Linked DNA regions of Homo sapiens: regions 2, 3 and 4 are each linked to region 1. Evidence: fine-mapped expression QTL. A gene starts in region 1. Each other region holds a variant in brackets. All regions are shown on one strand. Distances are from middle to middle. Region 1 holds the start of PSMD6-AS2 (PSMD6 antisense RNA 2). Region 2 overlaps ATXN7 (ataxin 7). Region 3 overlaps C3orf49 (chromosome 3 open reading frame 49). Region 4 overlaps ATXN7 (ataxin 7).

The links. PIP is the estimated chance that this variant, and not a neighbour inherited with it, causes the effect.
Region 2: its variant is fine-mapped to the expression of PSMD6-AS2 in Th17 cells (Schmiedel 2018, PIP 0.95).
Region 3: its variant is fine-mapped to the expression of PSMD6-AS2 in lymphoblastoid cells (TwinsUK, PIP 0.95).
Region 4: its variant is fine-mapped to the expression of PSMD6-AS2 in whole blood (TOPMed, PIP 0.99).

The regions. Positions count from the first base shown.
Region 1 is chr3:64,002,504-64,005,193 of GRCh38, forward strand. It overlaps PSMD6-AS2 (PSMD6 antisense RNA 2), which reads left to right and starts at 1,519. Exons shown (of 3, transcript NR_038286.1): 1 at 1,519-2,690. It overlaps ATXN7 (ataxin 7), which reads left to right. Exons shown (of 13, transcript NM_001377405.1): 13 at 1-959.
Region 2 is chr3:63,962,783-63,965,472 of GRCh38, forward strand. All of the region lies in intron 5 of ATXN7 (ataxin 7), which reads left to right. Among named protein-coding and RNA genes, the nearest start is that of PSMD6-AS2, 40 kb to the right of the region's middle. RefSeq lists an enhancer at 1,758-2,262. The variant AAC/A (reference allele first, on the strand shown) is at 1,291.
Region 3 is chr3:63,845,241-63,847,930 of GRCh38, forward strand. All of the region lies in intron 6 of C3orf49 (chromosome 3 open reading frame 49), which reads left to right. All of the region lies in intron 1 of THOC7 (THO complex subunit 7), which reads right to left. Among named protein-coding and RNA genes, the nearest start is that of THOC7-AS1, 14 kb to the right of the region's middle. The variant A/G (reference allele first, on the strand shown) is at 1,186.
Region 4 is chr3:63,938,975-63,941,664 of GRCh38, forward strand. The region is part of intron 4 of ATXN7 (ataxin 7); the gene reads left to right. Among named protein-coding and RNA genes, the nearest start is that of PSMD6-AS2, 64 kb to the right of the region's middle. The variant A/T (reference allele first, on the strand shown) is at 1,026.

The DNA.
Region 1 (2,690 bases):
TGTGTGCCTGTGCGTGTGTGTGTATACTCAGCACATGTATGTTACTATGTGATGTGGTTTAAAACTAATGGAAAAAACTGAAAGTGCCTGAAACTAGTTTTAAGCTTAGACAGAATCTCTTTAAAAAGACTTGAATGTTCAGTTGAACTTTTGGAGTTTGCTTTTTCCACCTAAATATTGTTTCTAAAATTTTAGGGGCGGAGTTGAAAACCACCAATGCTGGTAATTTTATAAGGTATTTTAAAATTAAGACCTCTTGGTTCATAGTAATTCAATTGGTGATGGATTGCCTGGTGGCACCAAGGGTTACAGATCTTTTTGTCAGCCAGCAACTTACACGATGTGTCCGTTTTGTTATTCACTCATGAAATACAATTTAAAATATTTAAAATATTTTGTATTCCAAAAATATAATACAAAGAAGTACCTCTGAGAACATTGAAAAAAATGTATAATTTGAAAAATGTAACTTATAAGGGCAGCTGTCTTCCTGCAAGAGTTCTGTTGCCAAGGAATTTCTTAATGTCGCTCATTCTGTCCAGGGGGTTTGGGGCGATTGGGCTTTGAAAAAATATTCTTAAAAGTTTGTTTAGCAGAAAATAATCACTTTTACATTTTGTGCAAAACATTTTACATTTTCAGATAATTTAAATGAGCACTACATACTGTCAGTGTGAATGTAGGGCCTTGAAAGCATTTTGCTTTTTTTTTTTTTTTTTTTTTTTTGAGCTTGGTTATAAAAGCAATCTCCTGTGTTAAAAACGTGTGAATAGTTTGATAATTTGTACACATAATCAAGAGCATCTCAGCTGGACTTTGTGTTGGCTGCTGTATAGAACATGAACAAATGTCAAGGGATAGAAAATTACTTTGGATATTTAAAAGAGAAGAAATATATAGTCTATTTGTTTTGTAACAAGTTTCTGTAAATAAAATAATTTATACTATTTATAAGAAAAGGTTGTGCTTTGCTTTATAAGAAATTAGCTTGTGGAACAAACATGTTACTAAACGGGCAATAAAATTAGGACTTCTCAATAAATAAGGTTGGCTGCATGAAATATTGTACGTTTCTGCCTCGTTGTGATACTAAACCCTTTCAGTCTACTCTGACTTTTCATCACTTTTGGCATGGAACACCCTTGTGAAGCCCCTTCAATTTAGCCTTCCTCTTATATAAGCTAAATACTTCTAAGGCCTGGGGATGTTTCCATCTGGGGGCACAAAGCTTTGCTTTGGATAAATTAGTAACTGTGTAAACAGTGAACATTACTGTATTCTGGCCTTGCATGTTTGTGAAAGAAACGAGGGAGTTGATGGATTGAGAAACACATTCTATTTGTACTTAGGTGCAAATTTGATGACATGTAGTTTTGGTTTAAGATAAGCTTTTTATCCAGACCCGGTCTAATCTCTTCCTTTCTTTTACATACCTCCCTTACTGGCAATACAAGTGCATTTTAGTATTATTTGGAACACAGCATAATCATTTACCTCTAGAAATCCAGACATTTTTACTGTTTGCAAATAAACCATTCTGATAAATTATTTTTGTTGCTTAAAATAAGAGGAGGAACCGCTGTGTGTTAGCAAGAATGTCCATACCTGATATGAAAGAGTCATGTTGGCTTCAGTTCCTACTGCCCTGTGGACTTCCCATTCCCTCCTTACTTGAGTCAACCATCCACTCAGTACTTTCCACAAATCTAATAATGAGGTGCTCTCTGTAGGTAAATCCTTTCACTATGGCTTGTCCTCAAACCTCCCAAGAAAAGGTTCAACTGCTCAATCTCTTAACCTTTTTAATTCCATTCCCTTGCAGGTATCCCGGCCCTGCATAACAAGATGATCCCAACTCAAGGAAAGGGGTTTAGCAGTGTTGGATCTTGGCGTATGTGGGATTTAACCAGGCAGAAAGGCAGACAAGAGTAAGATTCTAGGCAGAGAGAGCAAATGCGTCGAGCATGGGTATGAACATGTGAGGGATAGAGAATAATTCTGCAGGAAGTTTGCTGGATGGAAGGGCCTTATAGGGTTAGAAAAGCTGGTGTCAGATTGTCAAGGACTTTGAATGTCATGGGGCTTCTCTTCCAGGAACACATGGGATCAGGCTTAGATTAACCCAAATGTAATTGTCAGAGCCCAGAGATATTTCATGGTCCAGTCCTAGCACTGTGCAGCTGCCAAAAGTCAAAGCCATTCAAATCTGTACTGAAAACTGTGGAAAAGCAAAGGAGCACTTAAGTCTCTTTCCCCATGTCTTGCATTCTCACTCTCTTTTGCTTCAAAGATCTGTCTTTACCTGCCCCTGTCCCCAGTCCTAACAAAAAGCACTCCCCTAAATCAACTCTTAAGTTCCTCTCCCTTCTCACTCCTTTCTTAGTCTCCTCTTTCTGTAAGAAGTTCTTGCTCCTGTTGTTAATGGAAGTTAATTAAAGTAGTATTTCACCTTGTAAGGCTGTAATTCTTGGCACTTGTTATCCTCATTTTCTACATCCAAAGACCATGGACCAGAATATCTCTTAGGAGGTAAGGGAGAGTGAGGCTATCAGCCAAAGAAAAAGTCTCCAGGGGGAAGGGGAGAATCACTTATAATTTAATACTTTGTGGAAAAAACATCTCTGCCACCTATGGCCCTCCAATAACAATGGAAGACAGAATCAACAGGTGAGAACCTTGGGACAAAAATA
Region 2 (2,690 bases), 40 kb before region 1:
TTTTCTGGGTGATTCAACTGTGGTCTGTTGTGCTACTTGAGTCTCAGTCTGCTTAGCCAAACAAATTAAGAGAGTGACAATAATCAAGATACACTTGTTTGATGTAATACCAGAATTTTGTATTTCTTTTTTTTTTTTTTTTTTCTTCTTCAAGACAGATTCTCACTCTCTTGCCCAGGCTAGAGTGCAGTGGCGTGATCTTGGCTCACTGTAACCCCCACCTCCCGGGCTCAAGCAATCCTTCCACCTCAGCCCTTCCAGTACCTGGGACTACAGGCACACGCCACCACACCTAGCTAATTTTTGTATTTTTTGTAGAGGCAGGGTTTCACCATGTTGCCCAGGCTGGTCTCAAACTCCTGGGCTGAAGCAATCCACCTGCCTCTGCCTCCTGAAGTGCTGGGATTACAGGTGTGAACCACCACACTCGGCCAGAATTTTGTATTTAATTTTTCTTAGCTACCTTCACAGTGCATTTTTGTAACACAAATTTTTTAGACCTGTTTCTTTATAGATTTTTTGATTGGCATATGAATATATGAAATATATACACCTATAACGTATTTTTATATAAATACACAAATGTAATCATCTCAACTATTTTCAGTGCAGCCTTTTTCTTATTTCATTGGCTCTTTCAACTTACCTGCCTTCTCTAACTGTAGCAGTCCATGCTACGCTATAAATCATACATGCTGCATTCTTAGTATGTAACTTAATATGCATCCTTGTATATTTTTCTCATGCTTCTAACTCTATCCAGGCACATAGAATCACGTATTTTATTAGTAGGGGCTTTTGGTGATAGTTTTACAAAAAAGTGGATCCTATTATGCACACTTCTGCTCCTTTTCTACTCAACAATACCTCATGTAAATCCATTCACAGCCCTGGATAACACTAATCCCCTCTTTTTAATGGTTGCATACTGCTCTAAAGTGTGGCTGTGCTGTAGCTTCCTCTGCCAGGCCCTCTATGGACATTCATTTTGTTTCTTGCTTTTTGTCTGTGTGAACCAAACAGCAGTACCCACTCTGGTACATACATACTTAATTACTGGTGGTTTAGTTTCTGTGGGATAGAGTCTCAGGAAGGGATTCCTGGGTCACAAAAGACTAGTTATTTGCAGTGTTAATAGCTGCTGCTGGATTGCTTTCCAAAAAGGCTGTAATGCTTTATATCTCTACCAGCCACTATGAGAGTTATCTCCAAAGGAGTAGGTGTTGTATTTATTTTTCTAAGCTTCCATTTAATTTTCTAAAGCCTCTTACAATGTTCCTTAGACACATA[AAC/A]ACACACACACACACACACACACACACACACACACGTATGATTAATTTTAATTTGAAATAAATTCCTCAAACAACCACAAGTCTAGTAATACTTAATAATATGAGACAAAGAGATCTTTCAAAACGAGTGATTATTTTAAAAAATATTTAAACAATTATAGGCAGTTTCTCGGGCGTCTATGGGAAGTTTCTATTCATTCTGTATGGAATTTAAGGAAGAAATCTCATTCTCTTATGCTAGGATTCCCCTGTGCAAAATGTGAGGCCTCCTAGAGGATCATAATTTTGAGTGTGATTAATTGCAAGGCCAAGGAAAAACTATGGCCAGTTTTGTTTCTGATCTCCCTATCCTCTTTGCAGTTGGTATGACTGGTCACCTTATAAAGGTGTTCATTGTGTGTTTCAAATAATGACTGGGCTGAGGTCACGCTGTGGTTAACTCAAAGCCTGTGTAAATCAGGCCATGAAGATATATTTTATTTGCCTGCCTTACACACATGAAGTGTGGCTGAGCCCTGGAGAGCCATCGACCAAAAGATCAGCTGGAGGAAGGCTGCTGCATGGTTTTAGCCCCCAAGGTGAATTATCCCCATTTAAATTTCATCTCCCACCTCTCCTAATCCAGTGTGAGTACCTAATGAGCTCTGGATAATAACATAGCAACATTTCTAGGTGAAGCTAATCTGATTCTGGATAGCAGGCTTCCAGGCCCACAGCCGAATGAATTGCTTGGTATTTCCAAGTTTGAAAATACTTTTTTCCCCTTTCAAGTGCTCCTTGGCAGCAGGTAAGGAATGTTAAAGCTCCTGTAAGTGCCAATTAAGGCCAATTATAACTCACCCGGCCTGCTGAGACAGTGAAGTGGAGTTAGTGGAGACTTGTATTCCTGTAAAATGGAGAACTGGCTTTCACCAATGATAGGAACACAGTATTTCATAACTGCCAACAGCTTGTTTATTGCCCTCCAGAGCACTGAATGACACCTCTGCTGGCTTCTCAAGGATTCAGTTTAGGAAATCCCAAGATTTGTAGGGGACTTGACTAATTTCTATAATAGAAACCTCAGTTTTTCTGTTTCTGTTTAACTCCTCTATCATCCATCCAGTTTCTCCTTGGTTGTAATCATAATAGCTAACATTTGCTGAACGTTTAACAAGTGCTGGGCGTTGCATTACCTGCATTATCTCAAATTTACTCCTCACCCCAGGCTTGTGGGAGGAGGCAGTATCAGTCCTTAGCTCTCCTGAGTCTCTTGCCCACGGCTGCACAACTAGAAGTGCTCAGACTGCAGGCTGGCTGCCCCCTGAACCCAAACCTTGAGTGTTCCTCCTAGCCTCCTGCAAGTTTGCCTGTTTGCTGCGAATAGGCTAATGCACAGTTCAGAACTCCCTTTGTGCA
Region 3 (2,690 bases), 160 kb before region 1:
AGGACATTTGACTTTGGGGTACCTAGGGTTAGTTTGTACTGTGGCAGGGCACATGACTTCTGGGTTCATAGTGGCTGACAAGTCACTGGCAATGACTACATTGTTTCGGCTCCCACTCTGGTGATATCTCATGCATGATGCCATAAAAGGCTTGGGTCAAGCCCTGAAGAATGTGGCTGGACAGAAATACGGGTTGCATCCCATTGGTGACCAGCATATGACCAGAGGGAAATGTGCGTTACACTCTCTGTGGCTACCATAAAGGGCTGCAGTAGTAAAGGTAACCAACGGCAGTCACAGTAAGTGGTTATTACCATGAGGTGGAGGGGGACATGAACTCTGGCTTTTGGAATTCATAGGTATGTGTGTTCTTTTTTTCTTACATGTTTAGATGAGGGAGGCCTCAGGCATCTGACTGGGTCAGACAAAAAAGAAACTGAAATGTCATTAGCTAAGTTGGTCAAGGCGATCTCAAAGCCAAAGCCATTTTGGCTTTGGAAGACCCAATATCCAACATAAAATGGTTTCTTTAATTTCTAAAGATCTGAGTACCCTCCCTTCTGGCCAGTCTGCCTTTTTTGTGTATAAGGTTTCTGGTTCTGGAAGCTACAAATATTTACAAATGGCAAAATCTTACAAAAGATAATTCAGAATTATGATGCCATTACATGGAATGTTCCACATGAAAAAGACTATTCATCTAAGAAGTGCACTCGAACCCCGAGCCTCCCAAATTATGCAGAGAGAACAAAATTCTTATTGGCATTCAGAAGCCTCAAAGAGACAGTCCTCTAAAATCACCTTTTAAAAAGATTCACTGTAAAGAGCTAATGAAAAGCTGGAAATGGAAGATATTCCCTTACCAAGGATGGTAAAACTGATGTAACTCCTACTGCCTCTCTCTCTCTTTCTTTGCCTGAATATTTACAATCTACTACTAAATATTCAGTCTGCTTTGTCTGAATTGCCTTTCTTCCCTGAAAAAAGCAGTTAAACAGTTTCCTTATAAGAGAATCGTCTGAAAAATCAGGAGATAATCCCCAAGCGACTTGCACTCCCTGGACAAAAATGGACTTCAGGGCCACAGTTCAAGATTTTCCTAAACCTAGAGAAAAATTTCACAAGTTTTCTGAAGAATTCAGGGTCTTACTAGTAACTTATTATTTAAAAATTTTTATTTTTTTT[A/G]GACGGAGTTTCACTCTTGTTGCCCAGGCTGGAGTGCAAGGGCGCAATCTTGGCTCACCACAACCTTCGTCTCCTGGGTTCAAGCTATTCTCCTGCCTCAGCCTCCCAAGTAGCTGGGATTACAGGCACCCACCACCACGCCAGGCTAATTTTTTTGTAGTTTTAGTAGAGACGTGGTTTTACCATGTTGGCCAGGCTGGTTCTCAAACTCCTGACCTCAGGTGATCCACCCACCTCGGCCTCCTAAAGTGCGGGAATTATAGGCATGAGCCACCGTGCTTGGCCTTACTGGTAATTTATAACCCCAGTATACTTGATCTGTACCAACTAGTATATGTGTTGGTGTACTCTAGGGAGCCCCACATGGATGAAAGAGGCAGAATGATAGTCTCCTGAGAATTCTATCAAGTACCCAACAAGTCCCGTCCGATCTACTTATGGGTCAGGCAAAACCCAAAAGACTGCAAATTACAGTTTGAAAAGCCATTCCCCAAGTATTTCAGCTCCATGACAACCAGCAACCTAGAATGACATTTGGGCCTGTCCTAGGGTGCTTCCCCAAATAAGCAATCCCTAAAACAGCAGTTTCCAAAAATTCACTAGTAGGAGGGCTAGAACGCCTCCTAGTTTGTTGGGAATGGATCGAAGAATTGCGTAGGCGAATAGGAAGTACCACCACTTGTGCAAATAACCAGGACATTGGAAAAAGGACTGCTAAAAAAAATTTCTAGGAAAGCCCCTAAAATCAGGCTTCCCACCCACCCTGTGATAAAAAAAGTTCCTATAAATCTGGTATGTATTGGTATAAATGCTATCAGTCATAATTTTGGTTGAAAAATAACCAAATTTCCTTGTCAATTTCATCATTATTTTAATGAACTCTCATCAGGTTTTAACCATGGCCATTTTAAGTCATGTTGTCCACAGTTAATTGTTTTGGTTCTAATGCCTTTTATGAAAGCTTTCTGCAAGCAATTATAATCCTAAAGTGCTGTGTCTCCAAAAAGCTATATCAGAAGAATGAAAAGAAGGCCGGGTGCAGTGGCTCACGCCTGTAATCCCAGCACTTTGGGAGGCAGAGGCGAGCGGATCACTTGAGGTTAGGAGTCGAGACCAGGCTGGCCAACAAGGCGAAACCCTGTTTCTACCAAAAATACAAAAATTAGCCGGGTGTGGGGTTGCGTGCCTGTAATCCCAGCTACTCAGGAGGCTGAGGAAGGAGAATTGCTTGAACCCAGGAGGCAGAGGTTGCAGTGAGCCAAGATCGTGCAACTGCACTCCAGTCTGGGCAACAGAGTGAGACTCTGTCTCAAAAAACAAACAAAAAAAACAAACTCTGACATAACTTTTAGTTTATACCATTGGACAAAATTTCCAAAAGTTTAATGAAGAAACTGTAAACCAAAAATAAAATTCTAAGCCCTCCAGCCAATTGAATGGACACCCATTCAATAGGCCAAGGGCTTTCCAAAGTAAACCTGAAAAACTAGTTTAGGCCATGATGG
Region 4 (2,690 bases), 64 kb before region 1:
GTGCCTTGCCTTTTAAAATTTTTTTAATTTTTTTTTTTGCATATGGAAGAAATAAAGTTTTAGGACTTGATTTGTAAGACATTTGCCTGAAACTAGGGGAGAATCTTCAAGATGATGGCTTCTTTGGTATCTTGGCTGTCTCAGAGGCCCTTAGAACTTAGATGTCCCACATATATGGGCTTCATTCTCAGACCTGGCATTCTTCCAGGATTCTTTCTCAGAGACTGATACCTCTTATCCATCCATCCTGTTCTGTAAGATGGGAAGCATGGCATCCTTCTCTTCACCACCTTTGTATCCAGGCTATTACAAAGTCATGTCAACAGTTCCTTCTAAATGTCTTGGAATCCTTTCTTTGTCATCTCACTGCCATCCCCATGTCTTTCACCCTGTACTGCTGCAGACAGCTCTTGATTGACCTCCTCACTTCCACTTTCAAACCAAGCACCTCCCTTCCCCATACTATAGTCGAAGCAATGTTGAACATAATAATAAACAAACTGATGATATTATCCTTCATTAAAATGCTTCTATTAAGCACTAACGAATGTCAGAGTAAGGACCTCCAAAAATCTGCTCTGCCATAAAAGCAATAAAAGCACTGGCAAGAATTGTCAAAATCAACTTGTTTAGAATTGTGCAAATTAACCCCAAAGGCTTGCAAATTCAGATGAGCATATATTCAAGAAAAATGGCTGAATCTGTAAGTACAGAGAATTCTATAGTGTTTTAACTTGCCCTATTTCAACCTCTCCTCCCCAACTCCACAGTAACTTTGAAAACCAGCAGCTTCACAACTAGGGTAGCCGTGAAAGCCAGCAGTCTAGCAGCCACTGGAGGGGACAGAATGGGTTTGGAACTCCCCCAAAGCCTTATTTTCAGAGAATTGTCACTGATGTATCTGGTAGCTCCCTGAAAAGCCCCATTCTCAGGACTTGTCTTTATTTGGGCTAGCTCAGAGCTCATTCTGTGACCTATTCCTAGGGTGTTAAAAAAAAAAATCAGCAGTGATTCTTCAATGTCAC[A/T]GTTGCTTGAGGTGGTAATGCCAACTGGGGCTAAGAAGAGGCTGACCAAAAAAGTAAATAGGAAACACTGGGGAATGAGATGTCAGTTGGGGGCTTCAAAGAGTTCCACCATACTCCTGGGAATCCAGAAAACCACATGGATGTGTAGAGTTGTGCGCATGCCCAGAAAGGACCTGAGAAGGCCCTAATCTCACCTCTTGCTAACCTGGAGGCTGTATACAAGCAGGAAGTGAAGGCTAAAGCAGAGTCATAAACTCCCTGCTGGAGCATTGAGGCCATGCCCCATCACACACACACACACACACACACACACACACACACACACACAGCCCCTCAGCCAAGGCTGGGAGCCTTACGGCAGACATAAATGCTACATTAACCATTTAAAAACGTAAAGACAGGTCAGTAGCCAATGCCATTTCATAATTAATTCTGTTCTAAGTTGAATGAGAGCCATGGAATTTACACAATATACCTGACAGATGTGGTGTTGCAATGAACAAAAGAAGGAATGGTATTCTTAACTGAGTCATGAGATTATAATCATAACCACAATAATAATAATAGTAACAAAATAAACACTGTTCTTTATCGAGCCCTTATGTGTACACTCTGCTTACTGTGTTTAGACAGATATAGACCGCAACTTTTTACATGAATTATCTCATTCCGTCCAACAGTCCATTAAAGTTGATACTATCATTTTCAAATGTAGAAACTGTATGCCTAGATGTGCCTAGAGGTTAAGTACATTGCTGGAGATTACAAAACCAAGCTAAGTGGTAGACTCTTAGAGCCCGTATCCTACTCTAGACTACATGCTTGTCCAAATGGTAGGGATGCAGACAAGATTTATAAGGTTTTTGGTAGGCACTTCCAGATTTGGGACACATGGCATTGAAAGCTTGTTTTCTGACTTGAGAGGTCAGGATTTGCTGACAGTATTTTGAGGAGTAGCTTAAGGAACCCGTGAGACAAACCTGTCGTGTGTACTGCCATGTTGGTCACTGTTGTAGCCCCACCTGCCATTCCTAACGCAGGTTCCTCAGGATTTTGATATTTGCCTACTCTATTCTATCCCCAGCATTTTATCTCAATTTCAGTACAAGCAATGACAATGTAAACACTGTAACTCTTACCTGTTAGGGGTCACTATTGATAATATTGGCCATTTGTAATTAGTGAGTAATTAATATTAGGAATATTTTCATCTTTCTAGCTCCTTGGTCGTCTGGTGCAGGGGTCCCCAGTCTCTGGGCAGTGGACCAGCACCAGTCTGTCAGTGGCCTGTTAGCAGTCAGGCTATGGGGTGGGGGGTTTGGGAGAGAGAGAGGAATGAGCATTACCGCCTGAACTCTGCCTCTTGTCAGATCAGCGGTGGCATTAGATTCTCACAGCAGTGTGAACCCTATTGTGAACTGCACGTGCAAGGTATCTAGGTTGTGTGCTCCTAGAATCTAACTAATGTCTGATTATATGCGGTGGAACAGTTTCATCCTGAAACCATTCTCTCCTTGCCCCAGTCCCATGGAAAAATTGTCTTCCACGAAACTGTTCCCTGGTGCCAGAAAGGTTGGGGACTGCTGCTGTGGTTTTTGTTGCTTGCTTTTTACTTGAAACATCTCACTTTATTTTCTTTAAATCTAGTATTTATTGACTGCTTTG